2 separate regions of the Homo sapiens genome follow, and region 2 is linked to region 1. The links come from fine-mapping of genetic effects on gene expression. Tissue or cell type: sun-exposed skin. Region 1 holds a variant in brackets; the other region holds the start of a gene. All regions are shown on one strand. Distances are between the middles of the regions.

Region 1 (8,105 bases):
GGCTTACTATCTGTCATGTGATACTACACTAGAGTCAGGCTGGAATTTGGTATCTTATTGCTATAAAAAGTCTGCTTTATTAGTCTTAAGATCTCTGTTTTAATTTTTTTTTTTTTTAAGAGGGAGTTTCATGCTGTCCCCCAGGCTGGAGTGCAGTGGCACGATCTCGGCTCACTGCAAGCTCCGCCTCTCGGGTTCACGCCATTCTCCTGCCTCAGTCTCCTGAGTAGCTGGGATTACAGGCGTCTGCCACCACGCCCGGCTAATTTTTCTATTTTTAGTAGAGACGGGGTTTCACCGTGTTAGCCAGGATTGTCTCGATCTCCTGACCTTGTGATCCGCCCGCCTCGGCCTCCCAAAATGCTGAGATTTGTTTTAAGGTTAATATTGTTTAGTTGTGCCTGAATTCCAAAGGAGGAGAGTATAGTGAGGCATATCCGACCTCCTCTTCTTATCATGGCCTGAACTAGTTTTTTCAGGTTTACTTTGGAATTCCCTTGGCCAAGAGCAAAGGAGTCCATCAGTCAGCTGAGGGGCTTATAATATTATTTGGGGTTTACGTTGTTTATTGTCTCCTTGTACCCTGGGTTGATCTGTCCACCATAGCATTGGTGGTAGGGCTACCCTGCCTCACTATGGCAGCAGCTAGCAGGCCTGCAGACTCCTCCGCAGGGAATGTGCTGAAATGTCATGATCTCCACTATGCCACAAAGATGAGACTAAAAGGCAATGTCTTTCATTCTCCCATGGCCACTCTAGGTTGGTGTTGAAGCATGTGTGAAACCAGTCCCTGGGCTCTTGATAAGCATACCCCCTTCATGTTTGGCCTTGCTCTCTCTCTCTCTGGAGTTTCTGTCTTTTGCCCCCACCCCTTCATACCCAGCCCAAGTTTCAGCCTAAAGTAGGGGACTCAGGACCCTTGTATTTGGTGTCTTTCTACCTCCCCTACACTTGTTAAAATAGCACAGGCTTTACAGCCACATGATCCATGCTCTAACCAGCGCTCTCCTATGTTTTAGCTGTGTGACCTGCACAAGTTGCTCAACTTCTCTGTGCCTTTGTTATTTTCGATGTAAAATAGTAGGTGCAGCTGGAGAGGAACAGATTCACTGGATGAGAGTGTAATGTTAAAAGCGCCATGCAATATGAACATAATTTTTTATTATTTTAGGTGGCCAATTTTCAGAAATGGGGTACATAGCTTTCCCTTCCTTTCTCAATTTTTCTTACCCCCCACGTTTATTATAATTGAGTATTACAATAGTTAAGGATAAAAGGCTTTTACTTTTTTGAGACAGGTTCTCCTCTGGCTATGCTGCTCATGCTGCAGTACTGTGCCTATTCACAGGTGCAATAATATTATGTGCCCTACAGCCTCAAACTTGTAAACCAAAAGTAAATTCTAAGCCCCATCCCCAACCAATTGAGTGGACTCCTCCTCTGGGCCAAGGGCATTCTAAAGTAAACCTAAAACGCTAGTTCAGGCATGATGGGAATGGGTGGGAAGACAGGCCTCATTACCCCCTCCTCCCGTTGGAATTCAGGCACAGCTGACCAGCATTAACGTTAAAATAGAGACCTGAAGACTCTTTGTAGCAATATTACAGCTAGCAGGCCCTGAAAGAAATACGTATTTTACCTCCAAAATGTATTTCTTTGACATATTCTGAAATGGCCCTGCAAAGCTGTCTCGAGGGGAAAATCAACATTCTGTAGAGTTGATTTTCATCCTTTTCCAGGTCTTTTTCCAGATCCAGGAGAGAATTAACTAAGAGTCTAGTATCCAGTCTGATAAGAAGCATTTATAATCAATTCTCTCTGAAGCCTGCCACCTGGAGGCTTCATCTGCATAAGAAGAACCTTGGTCTCCACAACCTCTTATCTTAACCCACACAATCCCTTCAATTGATTCTAGATCTTTAGATAAACTTTCAACAAATTGCTATTCAGAAAATCTTTGAATCCACCTATGATCTGGAAGCCCCCCAGCCCTCTGAGTAGTCCCACCTTTCCGTACTGAACCAATATACATCTTACCTGCATTCATCGAAATCTTAAGTCTCCCTAAAATGTACAACACCAAGCTATAGCCCAACCACCTTGAGCACATGTTCTCGTGATCTCCTGGGTTCTGTCATGGGCCATCGTCATGCATAGTTGGCTTAGAATAAAACTCTTCAAATATTTTACAGAGTTGGATTCTTTTCATCAACAAACTCTTGGGCTCAAGTGATCTTCCCACCTTAGCCTCCCAGGCAGCTGGAACTATAGGCACATGCCATTGTACCTAACTACAGATAAAAGAGTTTAGAACACTCAACTAACAAGGCCATTCTGACCCTGAAATTCTAGTGAAATTGAACTTAACGCTGATCCAAAATGTAATACTATTCCCCAGGAATTTTTTTTTTAAACTTCTGGATCTTTTTGGTTAACATCGTAACCACTGGCTTAGATTTCCAGTTTCTGCAGAATTCTCATTTTTAATTTATAATATGATAATGAAGTATATTTTAAAATTAATTTTTTGATAAACTATAATAATATATTATCATGGCAGACACAGTGATGTTATATGTACACAGTGTGGAATCATGGAATCAAACTAATTACCATATCCATCACCATAAATACACATCATTTATAACATCTCCTCATTCCCCCCCACCCACCAGCCCCTGGTAACCACCACTCTACTCTCCGCTTCTATGAGTTTGATTTAGATCCCACATGGAAATGAAAACGTGCATTTTTTGTCTTTCTGTACCTGGCTTATTTCTCTTAACATAAGGTCCTCCAGGTTCATCCTTGTTGTTGCTAGTAACAGAATTTCATTCTTTTTAAAGGCATTTTTTGAGTGGCATTCCATTGTGTATATATAGCACATTTTCCTTATCTATTCATCTGTTAATGGACAGTTAGCTTGATTCCACATCTTGGCCATCATGAATAGTGCTGTGATAAACAGGAGTACAGATATCTCTTCGAGATACTGATTAAATTCCCCTAGAATTTATAGCCAGTAGTGGGACTGCTGATCTTCCTTTCTTTTTCAACAGCAATCTGTCTCCAAAAAATACCCAACCTCCCACTTGTGCTCAAGGATAGCTGATACTGCTTTAATGAGGAACGACTATTTTTCTTGCCACAATTTGAGGCAAAGGAAGCACACACACTGAAATTAAGGTCCAAATGACTGATCCTAGGCTCATATCCAAGTGCAGATTTTGACAGAGAAAGGTGAGAGGACAAACAGAGCAAGTGCGAGGAGGAACTCGGGCAGGAGGGAGGGAGGTTGTGTAGAAAGGAGGATTAGCAGTGCCAAAGCTTTCCTCTTTTGCCGGTGCTTAGAGCTGGAAAACTGCAGGTAGGGCTGAGATGGATCCTGTTTGTCAGCGTCTGTTCTGTACTTTGCAATTTGACAGCAGGCTTCCCAGCAGACATGTGTCACCTTGCCTCCGCATTTTCACCCCCACACCTAGCACACCCAGGAAAGGGCAGGGATGTGGGAGGTGAAGCTAGGGCCATGTACTCCGGGGTAAACTTCAACCTCACAGAAGGAGCCAGGCTAGGAGGACCCTGAAGGCCCTGGGTTCAGTTCCGCAGGGCGGAGAGACTGCTTTCCTGGGCCATTCCACTAGTTCCCGGATCTGGAAAGCTCCTTGTAAAGTGTTTCCATAATTTTCATTTTCTCCCCATGTGTCCTTTGCCTTTTACAAAATTACTTAAGGGCAGCTATAATGTACTAAAAAAGATACCAAAAGCCCCATTTTCTTATCAAATGCCCATTTTTTTCTGCCACTCAGAATTAATAACAGTGAAAGTCTTGTCATAATTTATCCAACTTCTTTTTAAATAACCGTTCTATTTAAATGAGGAAGGCAATCATGCTTGCATCTTCTGAGAAACAGTGTGGTTAAGGGTGGCGTCATTTGATTGTCACACAGCAGAGTCCTGAAGGACATTTTATAGCTTTTCAAGAATACCCACATTTTTGTCAGGGTCTTGCAGGCAGAGAAGGTTGGGTTCTCTGCAAAGGAGATCAGGAAGTCCCCATGATGCTACACATGCGAGCCAGGCCAGACATTCCCCTTTCCACAAAGTACCAACCCTTCTGGGCTGGTGCGTTTGGACTCAAATGTCCCTATATGCACTCCTCATATTTGCTTCCGTCCTCTGAACTCCGGTGGCAATTAGTCTGAATAAACCTCTTGTAATTTCTGGATAATGATTTTATAATTACCTTGAATCATTGAAGTGTGTTGCTATTTCTTATCATTTAACTACTCTCGTACTACTTTAGAGTGTCTAATAAATGTTGATTTAATCTCTTAAAACAGTGGCTTCTAATGATTAACATTCCCCACCCACAGTAAAGGCTTCTGCCTCCAGCACTGCCTTCTCTCTCTAGAATTAGATCCTCCTAGCAACTACCCACTCCCACTGCTCATTGGATGCTGTCTTCTAGAATGATGGGTTTCCAGCCATTCATCCTTGTGTTTCCCCACAGCTGGTGCTAACAGTTCATTCCCTCAAGGTGTACCAAATGGAATGAACCTATTAAATCCCTAACTCTACTAACAGATCATACCAAACCAGTAACGTGCCCTTTCTTAACTTCCATTTATATTCCTGTTTGGGGGTCATTCTGTGTTGCTGACCTCAGTCCGTTCAGCCTGCATACTTAAAAGTACGTAACTGGGCCTTCTCTCTTCTTCCCCCAACCCCACCATGTGAGGACACAGCAAGAAGGCTGCCATCTACAAGCTAGAAAGTGATCCTTGACTGAGTGTGGTGGCTCA[T/C]GCCTGTAATCCCAGCACTTCGGTCTCAGAAAAATAAAAGTGATCCTTCACCAAAAACAGAACATGCTGGAACCTTGGACTTGGATTTCTAGCCTCCAGAACTGTAAGAAAATAAATTTTTGTTGCTTAAGCAAAAAAAAAAAAAAAAAAAGAAAAAGAAATCTTCAAAAAAGTACATAACTGGGTGGGGTGAGCTTGTTTGTACTTCAGAAGATCCCCTCTGAATCATAAATAAGTAATAATTAGTTACTGAGGTCATTTATCAAAAGACAATGCTTTAGATATCTGTTCTTACAGGACAGTGAAGTATTAGAAAATCATGGGAAAAAGAAAACCACCGGCAAATATTTTTCCATTTTAAAATGCCACTGACTTTAAGACATGCTAGTTTTGAGAAAAAAAAGAAAAATCCTGAAATAGAATATGCACTTCAGAAATGAAATGCAAAAAAATGCTGTCTCTTAGAAATGAGATAATTCAACTACTAAGCAAATAAAATAAACCTGTAACATTCCTCCAATGAGATGGCCATGGACCTGTTTTCTCTGTTGACTGTGTAAAAACACTCTGGGGACACAGGTGAGAAAATCCATGTCAGGCATATGGAGGGTTAACTTGGAGGAATGATGGCCCACTGACACCATACCTGTGGGTCATCATGCTGCTTTTACAAATTGCCCAGTGGAAAGCATAAATTGAATGTTTAAAAACTACTAAACTTGCGTATACGGTTGTGAGGAAAAACGTCCATTCAGTCCTGCCAGAACACATTAATTTTATCTCGAGTGTAGCCACGGGGATCCTCGCACTTCTACTATCTGTATCCAGTGAGGTTGCAACAACCTCACCATCCATCAAGCTCTCTGTAGAAGGTGGAAGGTTGAGAGAAGTCCCCTGAGGAAGAGTGACATTGCGCTGGGTGACTCAGTCTGACGCAAGCCACAAATGAGGCAGAACAGGATGCTGAGGCTGAGGGGAAGAGCTTGTGCAAGGCCTCCCCTCATGCTAACTGCGCAGCAGCCCATAAGATGCGGGCCATAATGGTCGTTATGATTCTCCTCCCCCACCAGTCTTTTATTTAGGTTCATTTTTGCTTGTGGCAAAAAATACTCTCTTCATGGTTCTCAGATGTTAATGAATTGAATGTTCACCGTCCATCTTCCTGAATTGCTTCACAAAAGAATCTTACTTTAAAGGTGGAAAGTCCTCAAGGTCATAGCTTTCTAATCTATTCCTGAAAAGTCATTTCCATTTTGTGCTAGTTAAAAATGGAATGCATTTAGGATTTCATCTTATTGATGAAATTGACCTTAAAAAATGGTCAATTTTGATTTGTAGCTCGGAGTGAACTGGGCAATACAAAAAAGGACTATTTTGTACCGTAAGAAATAGATGTGAGGAAGGCACGATGATTTCCAGTATCCTTCACTGAGGTCAATTTTTTTTTCACAGAAAACTAAAATGTTCCTGTTCTATTTCCTTTAATTTACTCAGAATACTGATTCCCAAGATTTTAAAAGTGACTTACACTTTAATAGAATCTCAACCTATTTAATTTGTATAGTGCTTTTGTGATTCTCAAGCAAAATTCTACTTCTTCAACTTTTACTTTGGATTCATGGAATACATGTGCAGGTTGTTACTTGTGTATACTGCGTGATGCTGAGGTTTGGAGTACCAATGATCCCATCACCCAGATACCGAGCACAGTGTCCAATAGGTTTTCAACCCTTGCCCCACTCCTTCCTCTAGGAATCCCAGGTATCTATTATTACCATCTTTATGTCCATGAGTAGCCAATGTTTAGTTCCCATTTGTGAGAACATGGGGCATTTGTTTTTTTGTTCCTGGGTTAATTTGTTGTTTGTAACAGGATGATGGCCTCCAGCTAACTCTATAAGGACAAGCTTGCTTTCTTTTATATGGCTGTGTCCTACACGATTTTAGATCTATCATCTATCCTCCCGGCATAATTGGTTAGGGAGTTTGTCTCATTATTCTTCCCAGCCATATGACCTTGTGCAAAGATCAAACTTTGGGCAAAGAGTTCAATTCAAACATCAGCTATTACTAGTGTAGCTGGGCCACCCTACCCCACTGGAATTATATGTCTTGGGTATCACTCAGTTTTAGTACCTTTAACCTGGACACGTTACCCAGATACAATTTCAAGGTAAACATGCCTGCCTGTCTTCCTAGTTTTTTTTTTTTTTTTTTGCCCAGCAGGAGTGCAGTGGCACAATCGCAGCTTCGAAATGCTAGACTTAAGCAATCCTCCTGAGTAGCTGGGACTACAGGCATGCGCCACTGCACCCTGCTGATTTTTAAATTTTTGGTAGAGATGGGTTTTTTTGTTGTGCAGAGTGGTCTTGAACTCCTGGGCTCAAGCAATCCTCCTGCCTCAGCCTCCCGAAGTGTTGGGATTACAGGCATGAGCCACCACGCCTGCAGGTTTTAACATGTTAAGCAAAGCACACACCCGCAGCAAGTGGGAAATCCAGCTTCAAGAGAATTTCCATTTCTTACCATCTTTTTCCACTTTGTCCATCTCTCCCTGCAGCCCTCCCCCATCAAGCATCCATTGTATGAAATGCCCATACTACCTTTTTCTGTGTGCTTTACCTACTATGCTTACTCTTGAAAATTTCCTCCTGGGCCATCTTAGAAACTTATTATTCAGTCTGCATTTCCATTTTGCTTACCTTTCTGTGACACTCATCCAATGGCCTATGGCCGTGTTTACACGGATTTGATATGCTTTAGAAGGCAATTACTTTTATTCATCATTGTCTCCCCTGGGCCCAGCTAGCATGGCACCTGTTACATAAAAAATTCATGTTTTCTGACTGTTCAGTAGATGCCATTTTAAGCAACAACTCAAAGGGCCTTTTTTCTCGGGATTATTTTAAAACATGTTTCATTTATCCTCTAGTATTTCAGACGATGTCAGAAAATGAAAAATGGACATTTACTTTTTTACCTAAAGCCTATCACTTTGCAGGTCATTACTCTTCGCTGTGAATGAGGAAAAAAAAAAACAAAAACTCTGTGGTATGTTAAGAGCCAAGAAACTAGTGATTTTTTTCTATTACCATTTACAACTGGTATGTTTTACAAACGATCACATTTTATATATCAGCTTACCTTTTATATGTTATTTATTTATTTATCTTTTTGAGACGGAGTCTTGCTCTGTTGCCAGGCTGGAGTGCAGTGGCGCGATCTTGGCTCACAGCAACCTCCGCCTCCTTGTCTCAAGCGATTCTCCCGCCTCAGCCTCTCAAGTACCTGGGACTACAGATG
Region 2 (8,086 bases), 37 kb before region 1:
TTATGGAAGCTATTAAAATGATAGTTACCCAAACTTTACAATTAATGAGGAAAATGCTTATGTTATAACTTAAGTGCAAATAGGATATAGGAAGCATATGTTTAGTATAATCACAACTATGCCAAACAAACAGAAAAAAACAAAACAAAACTCTATAATGACAAAAAGGACTAGAAGGAAATACACCAAAATTTAACAATGTCTCAAGTTGGAGACAGCGAGGGTGATTTTGAAAACTCTAGTTTCTCTTACTTTTCTACACATTTCACAATTCTACACTGAACATGTATAATGGAAAAAAGCAAATGAACATTCCTTTGGAATAAAAGCGAATGTTGGAGGGAGCAGGTGGTGACAGAGAGGTTCTCCACAGGGCAGTGAGCCATGGCCAGGCCACAGGGCAGCCCCAGGGGTAGGCTATGGGCCTGGGTGGGAAAATCAGCCCCTCTAGCAGCTCCTCACTTACCTCGGGAACCAGGGCAACATAAGGCTCCTGGATGAACCTGGGCGCCTCATCATTGGCATCGGTCACCAGGATCACGACTTTTTCGGCCACCTGAGAAGGGGCAGAGGGGTCAAGAGCCAGTGCAATGAGACCTTCTGAAGGATGAATGGATAGCGACCTCTATCACTCCAATGTACACGTCTCTGCCCATCCCTCCTCTCTCTCTCTCTCTCTCTCTCTTCCTTCTTTTATTCATTAATGCAATAAACATTAAGCAGCCTCTTAGTGCCAAACACTGTGTTTCATCCTGGAGGCAGAAGACTGTCTGATGATGTGTTATTTTGCAGTAGTCATGGTGGCTGGGATATCAGGGCAAAGATCAGCATATTAAAAAACACTTTATGATCTCCTCAAGGTGATAGCAGCAGTATGCCAGGCACTGAGGGCGGGGCCCCTGCACTGCACCAGCGCACACACATGGCCTGTGTAAATGCATCCGATGGGGTTGAGAGTTCCTGGGCTGTGGTGGTGGAGAGCAGGTGGGCTTCTTAGAGGAGTGAGAATTAATCCATGAGGCAGTTTGCCAGAAGGAAAGAGGTAGAAAGTTGTGCCAGGAAGAAGGGGTTGTATGTGCAAAGGCAAAGAGGAGTGAAATGCATGGTGAGCTGAGGATGAAAGTAGATTTATGGCTAGATTATGGCCTGGGTGGGGTGGATGTGAGAGAAAAGGCAGTGAGGCAGATGGTGCCCAACGAGGAGTCCTGGAACACCAGGCAGAAGCTTAATTTTCATCCCGCCAGTGGCGGAGGCCAGTTGTTAGTGCTTTCCCAGCCTCAGAGTGGGCAGATCTGACTGTTCCATAGTGACAACTTCAGAGGCAGTTGGGGTCGGAGAGCCTGGAGGCCAGTGAGCCCCTGGGGTTTGTTGAGTTATCCAGTGAGCACTGATGATCGCTGAGAGAAAGTGGTTGCTGTGGGGTGTTGAGCTCAGGTGACTGAGCAGGAGGGCAAGACCTGGGTGGGGGAAGCAGATGGGGAGGGCAAGTTTGAGGAGATGCTGTGGAATGTGGGTTAGACCCATTAGAAGCTCAGCTCAGAGAGCCTGATCTCTCCATTCCTTCTTTTCCTTCCTTCCCCCTGGCCTTGCTGCAGCCCTCTCCTGTGGGCACTTTGGGCAGGTCTTGCTGGGCCCTAGCTTAAACTTGCAGAAAAGCCCCCATGAAGGCTTGGGGAGGAATCGTGCCAGCCTCACCCTTCTCAGGCCCAAATACTGCAGGCTGCCAGGGACTGCCTTGGACGTGCACTCACCAGATTCAGGCCATCAGAAATGCTGATGATGGCTTCAATCTCATCTTCCCTCTGTGAAGCACAGGGACTGAGTGAGTGTCCAGGAGTCTGACACGCCATAGGACCCCTGTGGCTGGATGGAGCTCTCCCTGCCCCACGCACCCATCAGAGGAGGTCTGGGCGTGCCAATAGATCCCTGGAGCAGGGTAAGTGGTGGTGACAGCATGCCTGGCAGAGTAGAAAGCTGCCTCCCCCCATGCTTGAGACCTTATTTTGGGACTTTTGTGTCCGGGGTTCTTATAAACTCAGAGACCCAGAGGGTCTGTTGGGGCTCCAACAGAAAATACTCTCCTGCCACAGTGAGGCGAGATGTCGACCTTAGTGTGCTCAAGGTCCCATAAAGACTTTTCCTCTTTCTTTTCCCTTTTCTCCCCTTTTCTCTCCACACCTCTCCACATTCCAGGGCTCTGCAGAGGCTCACATCCATGGTGTCTCAGTGCTCCCAGGATATGGTGAGACCTCAATGGGGAAGGGTATCGGATGTTGCCAGATCCCGCGGGTGCCAGGGAGTGGGGTACTGGCAGCACAGTCAGGCTCCACTGCTGTGTCCCCACAGCAGTCCCTGAGACCTCCCTTTCCTTTCTCTACCCTGTCCTGCAGCTAGTGGAGGCTGTCACGAGCTGGCAGCATCCCCACAGCTGAGGTCCAGTTAGCCACACACCAGGCTGCTATGCGGTCTGAAAAAGCCCATGCCCTGTTGCCTGCAAGTTCTCAAGTGTGTAGAGTGGAGGAGCTCTGCCAAACTCAGACTCACTGCCAACCACCCTTTCCAGCCTTGACCTGCTCTGAGTTCCTGTGCCTCTCCCAGGACAGGCTTGAAAAATCACTTTGTGAGGTTTCTTTCAGAAACCTCAAAGTGCAAACGGATTTATTTTTAATGGAACATGCTTAAAAGATTAGCAGGGCTGGCAGGTGCTCGTTAAAGGAGCCCACTCTTCGCTCTGTGTGAAGGAGGAGCATGAAAGTAAAGCCCACTCTGCTGATGGGAAGTGGCCCAGAGATCTCACAGAGTGGATGTGCCTGGGGTGTGCCCCCTCATCCCCTACTCTGTGGAGAGGTTCTAACCAATGTGCTCCAGGGGAACTTCAGCCCACCGAGGTCTGTCTACAGGCAGTGGCCCCGCAGCACTCCCCACACCTCCCCATACCTCTCTGTCCAGCTCTTCAACCAGGGTGATGTTTCCAAAAGTGGGGTCAACAGAAAAGACGCTTCTAGTGCTGGGGTCAAAGCTGATGTGGTAGGAGATGGGGTCTCCCTCAGGGTCTGTCCCATTCAGGGTGTATACGTGAGAGCCTGGAAGGAAACACAGTGGAGAGACATAGAATCTGAGACCCAACTTTTCCTAAAAGTGGCAGATGCTCAGGACCAACGATTCAGCTGTTTATAAAGTGACTATTCAACTCAGTGCCAAAGGTACTGCCCTGAACTTGGTGCTCATTGCTGGCCTCACCCCTGCTGGCTGCTTCCCTCTTTGTATGTTTATTCTTCACAGCGGGTGGTTGTGATGATCAGCCACTTTCCAGATTGTAATCTATAACACGGGTTACAGAGCAGGTGCAGGTCTGCCGTGCCTAACTGTAGTGCCTATGTTCTGCTCAGCCTGGTAATAACTCCTCTCTCAGGATCCAAGATTGAGGGGCTCCTGGGTACAGGGAAGGGGAAATGGGAGCAGCCATTAAGGCAGGAGGGGTGACCCACAGTGCACCACTGTCCCCGATGCCTGGACCTGGTTCTGCAGGGATTTCTGAGCCAGGTGCCTACTTTGCTCTGCTCTCCCTTTTCCCCGGGTTCCCACTACCCACAAAGTGAGGGAGAAGGAGTGTGAAATCTCCCCTTTCTCCTCCCCTCTCTCTGCATATCTCAGCAAGTTGGATGTTCTTAGGCCGTTTTAAAGCCTAGAGACCTGGGGCTCAGGGAGGTAAATACATTTGTTCAAGGTCACACAGCCATAAGGGGCAGCTGTAGCTGCCTGCCTCGCGGGGCGACCCTGTCTGTGGGGGGGAGCCCTGGTCTCCAGGACTGGCCAGACTTAAGTCGCCATGGCAGCAATGACCTTCTTTCCTGCCATTGCCCAGGGGAATTCGGAGAGCAAACAAGGAGCCCCCGGGCGCGCGCAGCAACTTGGGTGGTGCCTGGGGCACTTTGTGTTCTAAGTCTGCCTGCACCCCTCAGGGAGACCTATCGGGAGCAGGTGCCAGGGCTACTCACCTACAGGGGTGTCCTCTGGGAGGCTGAACAGAGCCATGTTTCCGTTGGTGCTGCCGACCCCGTTGTCGAAGAAGTGCGGGGCGAAGTTGGCCTGAGCTGGAAAAAGAACACAGAACAGACGGACACCCAGGCAAAGGACACCCAGACACCAGGAGGGAGCTTCGCACCAGCGCGGTCCCGCGTCAGGCCCAGCTACTGGGCAGGAGGGCGCTCCGCCTCCCCAACCCAAGTGCACCGAGGGACCCCACTGGGGCGCCGCCCAGAGGATGCCCCTGACCCCCACTCCGCCCCCGGTGGGCTCGGGCTTGTCAGGGACACGTAGCATGTGGGCGCTTAGAACCCAGGTAGCAATCCAACCCCTCCTTCATCAATGGGCAGATTGCACCCGCGCTCGGAGAGGGGCAGTGCCCCAGCCCAGCCAAGGTCAAGCCGCGAGTCAGGGCACTATCTCCTGCCCCACGCAGCATCGGAGCTGCCACCAAGCCTACAGCTCTGGTTCCCAGCAAGCGGAGAGCAGCGGGGGTCCGGGCGCCAAACCCTGGGGCCCTAGGATGCCAGCTCTGGAGAAGCGCCCCGGAGCTCCCCACTACTCCGCTACCCCACTCCCCACTACCGAATGGGCCAGGAAGATGGAAGGACTTCTCCGCTCCCGTCCACCAGCCCGAGTCCCACTCTGGAAGTGGTCCAGGACCATGTCCCTCTGGCCACCTGGGTGACGCCAGCGCCCATCTCCCTCGCCATCCACGCGGCCAGCGCGGCCCAGCGGCCACTCACCCAAGCAGAGGCGCAGCAGCCCCAGGGCCAGGGCGGCCCACCGGCAGCGCCTCATGTCTCCGCCGGCGCGGAGTGTCGCCTGCCGCCGCCGAGACCGGGCGCAGGGGCACGGAGCATGCCCTGGGCCCGCGGGGAGGGCAGAGACCACAATGGGGGTAGCGGCGACTGCAGCCGCGGCGGGAGGGGGCACGGGGCGGGAGCGGCGGGTGGCGTGAGGGCGCTAAGAGGATGACACGGCTCGGATCTGCTCCTGCCGGCCGCCTGACGAGACCAATTAGCGGCGCAGAGCGGAGCGACAGGCTCCCAGCCGCGGGCGGGGGCAGGAGGGCGTGACAAGAGGACTCCCCGCCCGCCACGCCCCCTTTGCCGGCGGCCCCCAGTCCTGGACAGGAGGACACCATGGGGGACAGGAGTGTCTTTCCCCCAAGTTGTCCTGAGGCTTTCCCAGGGTACTTAAGTCCTGGTGGGGCTTGGGCTTCGCAGTTTTCTTTTCTCATCAACTTCCTCTGTGACTTTCAGGGGCTTAGCTGTCTTCTCTGAGCTAAGCATTCCAGAAGAAAAGTTAGTGGAGCGGCCGAGAGGGCCTTGCCTTAGCAGTCTAAGCAGGTTCTATAAGCCGCGTGAGACCAAAGGCAAAGAGAAAGGGTGATGGATGGGCAGCAGATGGTAAGGGGTTATCAGGACCCCCTCTCTGTGATCTCAACCCATTCCTGCCCTGTTCCCCAGGCTGGACCACCTCTCCCAAAGGGTCTGATCTGTGTGGTGGGCAGCAGGGAGGACCCTCAGGTGTCCACCAGGGTGAGAGGCAGTTCTGCTCCCCATTCCCAGTCAGTGCCCAGTCTGGGACCATGAAGGGGCAGCTGACCCACTCTTCAAACCTTCCAAGGAAGAGTGAAGGGCCTGAAGGCAGAGTTAAGCCCCATCTTAGGACAGACTTGCACAGAGCTGGCCAAGATAGATCTGAACTGCCCGAGAGGCACGAGATCTCATTCCTAGAGGGTATTTACACAAAGCAAGGCACTGCTATTGGGGTCCTGGATGCTGATAACTTGAAGACACAGGTAAGCCCAGGAACCTTTTTGGCTGCTGGTAAAGCTCCTTGGGCTTCCTCGTTCTCCTGCTCTGACACTGGAGGGTGCTTGGAAATGCAGCCTGTTTTCCTTTTCCTGGTTGGGCCATTTATGGGGGTACAGGTCACTTCAAGCCCAAGCCAGGCCACTTCCCAGGATGCCCTTGGGTGGATGTGTTCTCAGATAGAGGAGATCCCTCCTCTGTGTGCTCCTGGGAGAGGTCTCCACAGCTGAGGACTCAGCATTCCCCCCCTCCCCCTGCCAGGGGCCTTTGAGGGAACAGAGCACCCCCCATCCCTTGGTCTAGCCCTACATGATCTACTGTGAGCAAGGGTCAGGGATTTGCAGAGAAGAAGGAAGATGAATCAATGGTTTTAGAATGTGCAGCAGTTTTCAGGCCTAATTGGCCGAAACCCTTGTTGAGTCTCCTTAGGCTTGGCTCTTTTGCTGAAAAGACACACTTTAAATTGCACAGATGTTCTGAATCTGCCTCCCAAAGTGCTGGGACAAAGCTAAGGCAAGTATTCTGCAAGTCCCATATAGGGATGTGGAGACTGAGTCTTGCCGTGGATTTCCCAGGAGCCAGAGGCAGAGCCAAGGTTTCCTGGAGTAGATGTCTTGGTGGGCCGAGAAAAGCCAGCTCTCCCTGGGTCCTGTTAGCCCTGCTCCTCACCAATCTAGGGCCGTTGATTTCTCTCTCCTCAGTTCCCTCAGTCAACAGCCATGCACTGGAGAGGGAAGGGGAAGGAGTAGCCTACATGCCATGTGCTGTATGTGTGCTTATGTATATTTGCCCATATTATCTTATTTGACCTGCACTGCTCTCCCAATGTGATTTTCTCTGCTTTGCAGAGGAGGGAGATTTCCTCATTGGCTGTGTACGACCAAGCAAGTGACTTATTCTCTCTGAGGTGCAGAGCTTGGATTCACATACAGTTTGGGTTGGCTCCAAAGAAGGTTCAAACTCTTTTTTTTTTTGAGCTGGAGTCTCACTCGGTCACCCAGGCTGGAGTGCAATGGCGGATCTCAGCTCACTGCAACCTCTGTCTCCTAGGTTCAAGTGATTCTCCTGCCTCAGCCTTTCAAATATTGGCATTACAGGTGCACGCCACCATGCCCAGCAAATTTTTTTTCTTTTTTTTTTTTTTGGTAGAGACGGGGTTTCACCATGTTGGCCAGGCTAGTCTTGAACTCCTGACCTCAGGTGATCCACCCATCTTGGCCTCCCAAAGTGCTGGGATTACAGGCATGAGCCACTGTGCCCGCCTGGTTCAAACCCTTTTCATGGCAGAAGAAGATGATCTTGAATCTACTGAAGCTTCAGCTTCTAGGCCTCTCACTCACACATCACACATTCCTTCCAGAGCCCCAGTTTTGTATTTTACTTTGTATTTTCTTCTTCTTTCTTTTTAGAGATAGGGTGTTATTATGTTGCCCAGGCTGGCCCTGAACTCTAGGGATCAAAAGACTCTCCTGCCTCAGCCTCCTGAGCAGCTGAGAATACAGGCAGCACCATTACATCTGACTTCTATTCTGATGTAGAAGGGTCTGAGAAAGACCCTCCACACCCCCCACTCCAACTCCTGCTGCTTCCTTCAGCTGTTTTAGGTTCAGATCTGCTAGTGTAACCAGCTGCCCAAATTTGCCTGGGACTGAGGGGTTTCCAGGGATGCAGGACTTTCAATGCTAAAACCAGCAAAGCCTAAGGTAACCTGGTATTTGGCGGTCACCCTAGATACAACCCTGTCCTCAAATCACCTAAGGACCTGGGAAAACAGCAGCTCTTTATGGTGGTTCTCACCATGGACCCTGATCTTGACCTTGCAGTATGGAAGGTCTTGGCTTGTCAAGGCTCAGTAGGACTCATCTGCCATGAGACATGGGACCTGACCCTCACTTACAGAGCCTGGGCAGCCTCAGGCACACCAGTCACACTGTCTTCCAAATGCCCGTCACCCCTGAAGGGTGGTGAGCTCCCTGTCTCCTGGGACCTCCTTGCCATGGTACCTGCAGTGCAGTACCACATAGTGTCATCTTAAAGTCAGCTTCTGACAGCTCTTCTTCTGGTGGATTTATGGCAGCTTCTCCAGCTATTGATAAGCGAGAATTGGCGTGTCAGCTGTTAGCCTGGGCATGCATGTGTTGTAAGTCTGCCAATATGCCAACTCAGGCTCACGTGCACATCCATGTCTTTGCCTTTATCTGATCTACCTGAGTGTGCCAACCCACAGTCCCTTGCCCATG

The links. PIP is the estimated chance that this variant, and not a neighbour inherited with it, causes the effect.
Region 2: CDHR1 starts here. The variant in region 1 is fine-mapped to the expression of CDHR1 in sun-exposed skin (GTEx, PIP 0.95).

What each region holds. Positions count from the first base shown.
Region 1 is chr10:84,154,593-84,162,697 of GRCh38, reverse strand. No RefSeq gene overlaps it. Among named protein-coding and RNA genes, the nearest start is that of CERNA2, 13 kb to the left of the region's middle. RefSeq lists enhancers at 248-963, 1,296-1,797, 6,873-7,386. The variant T/C (reference allele first, on the strand shown) is at 4,803.
Region 2 is chr10:84,191,502-84,199,587 of GRCh38, reverse strand. It overlaps CDHR1 (cadherin related family member 1), which reads right to left and starts at 5,051. Exons shown (of 17, transcript NM_033100.4): 1 at 4,773-5,051; 2 at 3,999-4,094; 3 at 2,938-3,083; 4 at 1,752-1,802; 5 at 467-556. The coding sequence starts at 4,827. RefSeq lists silencers at 4,836-4,955, 5,026-5,155.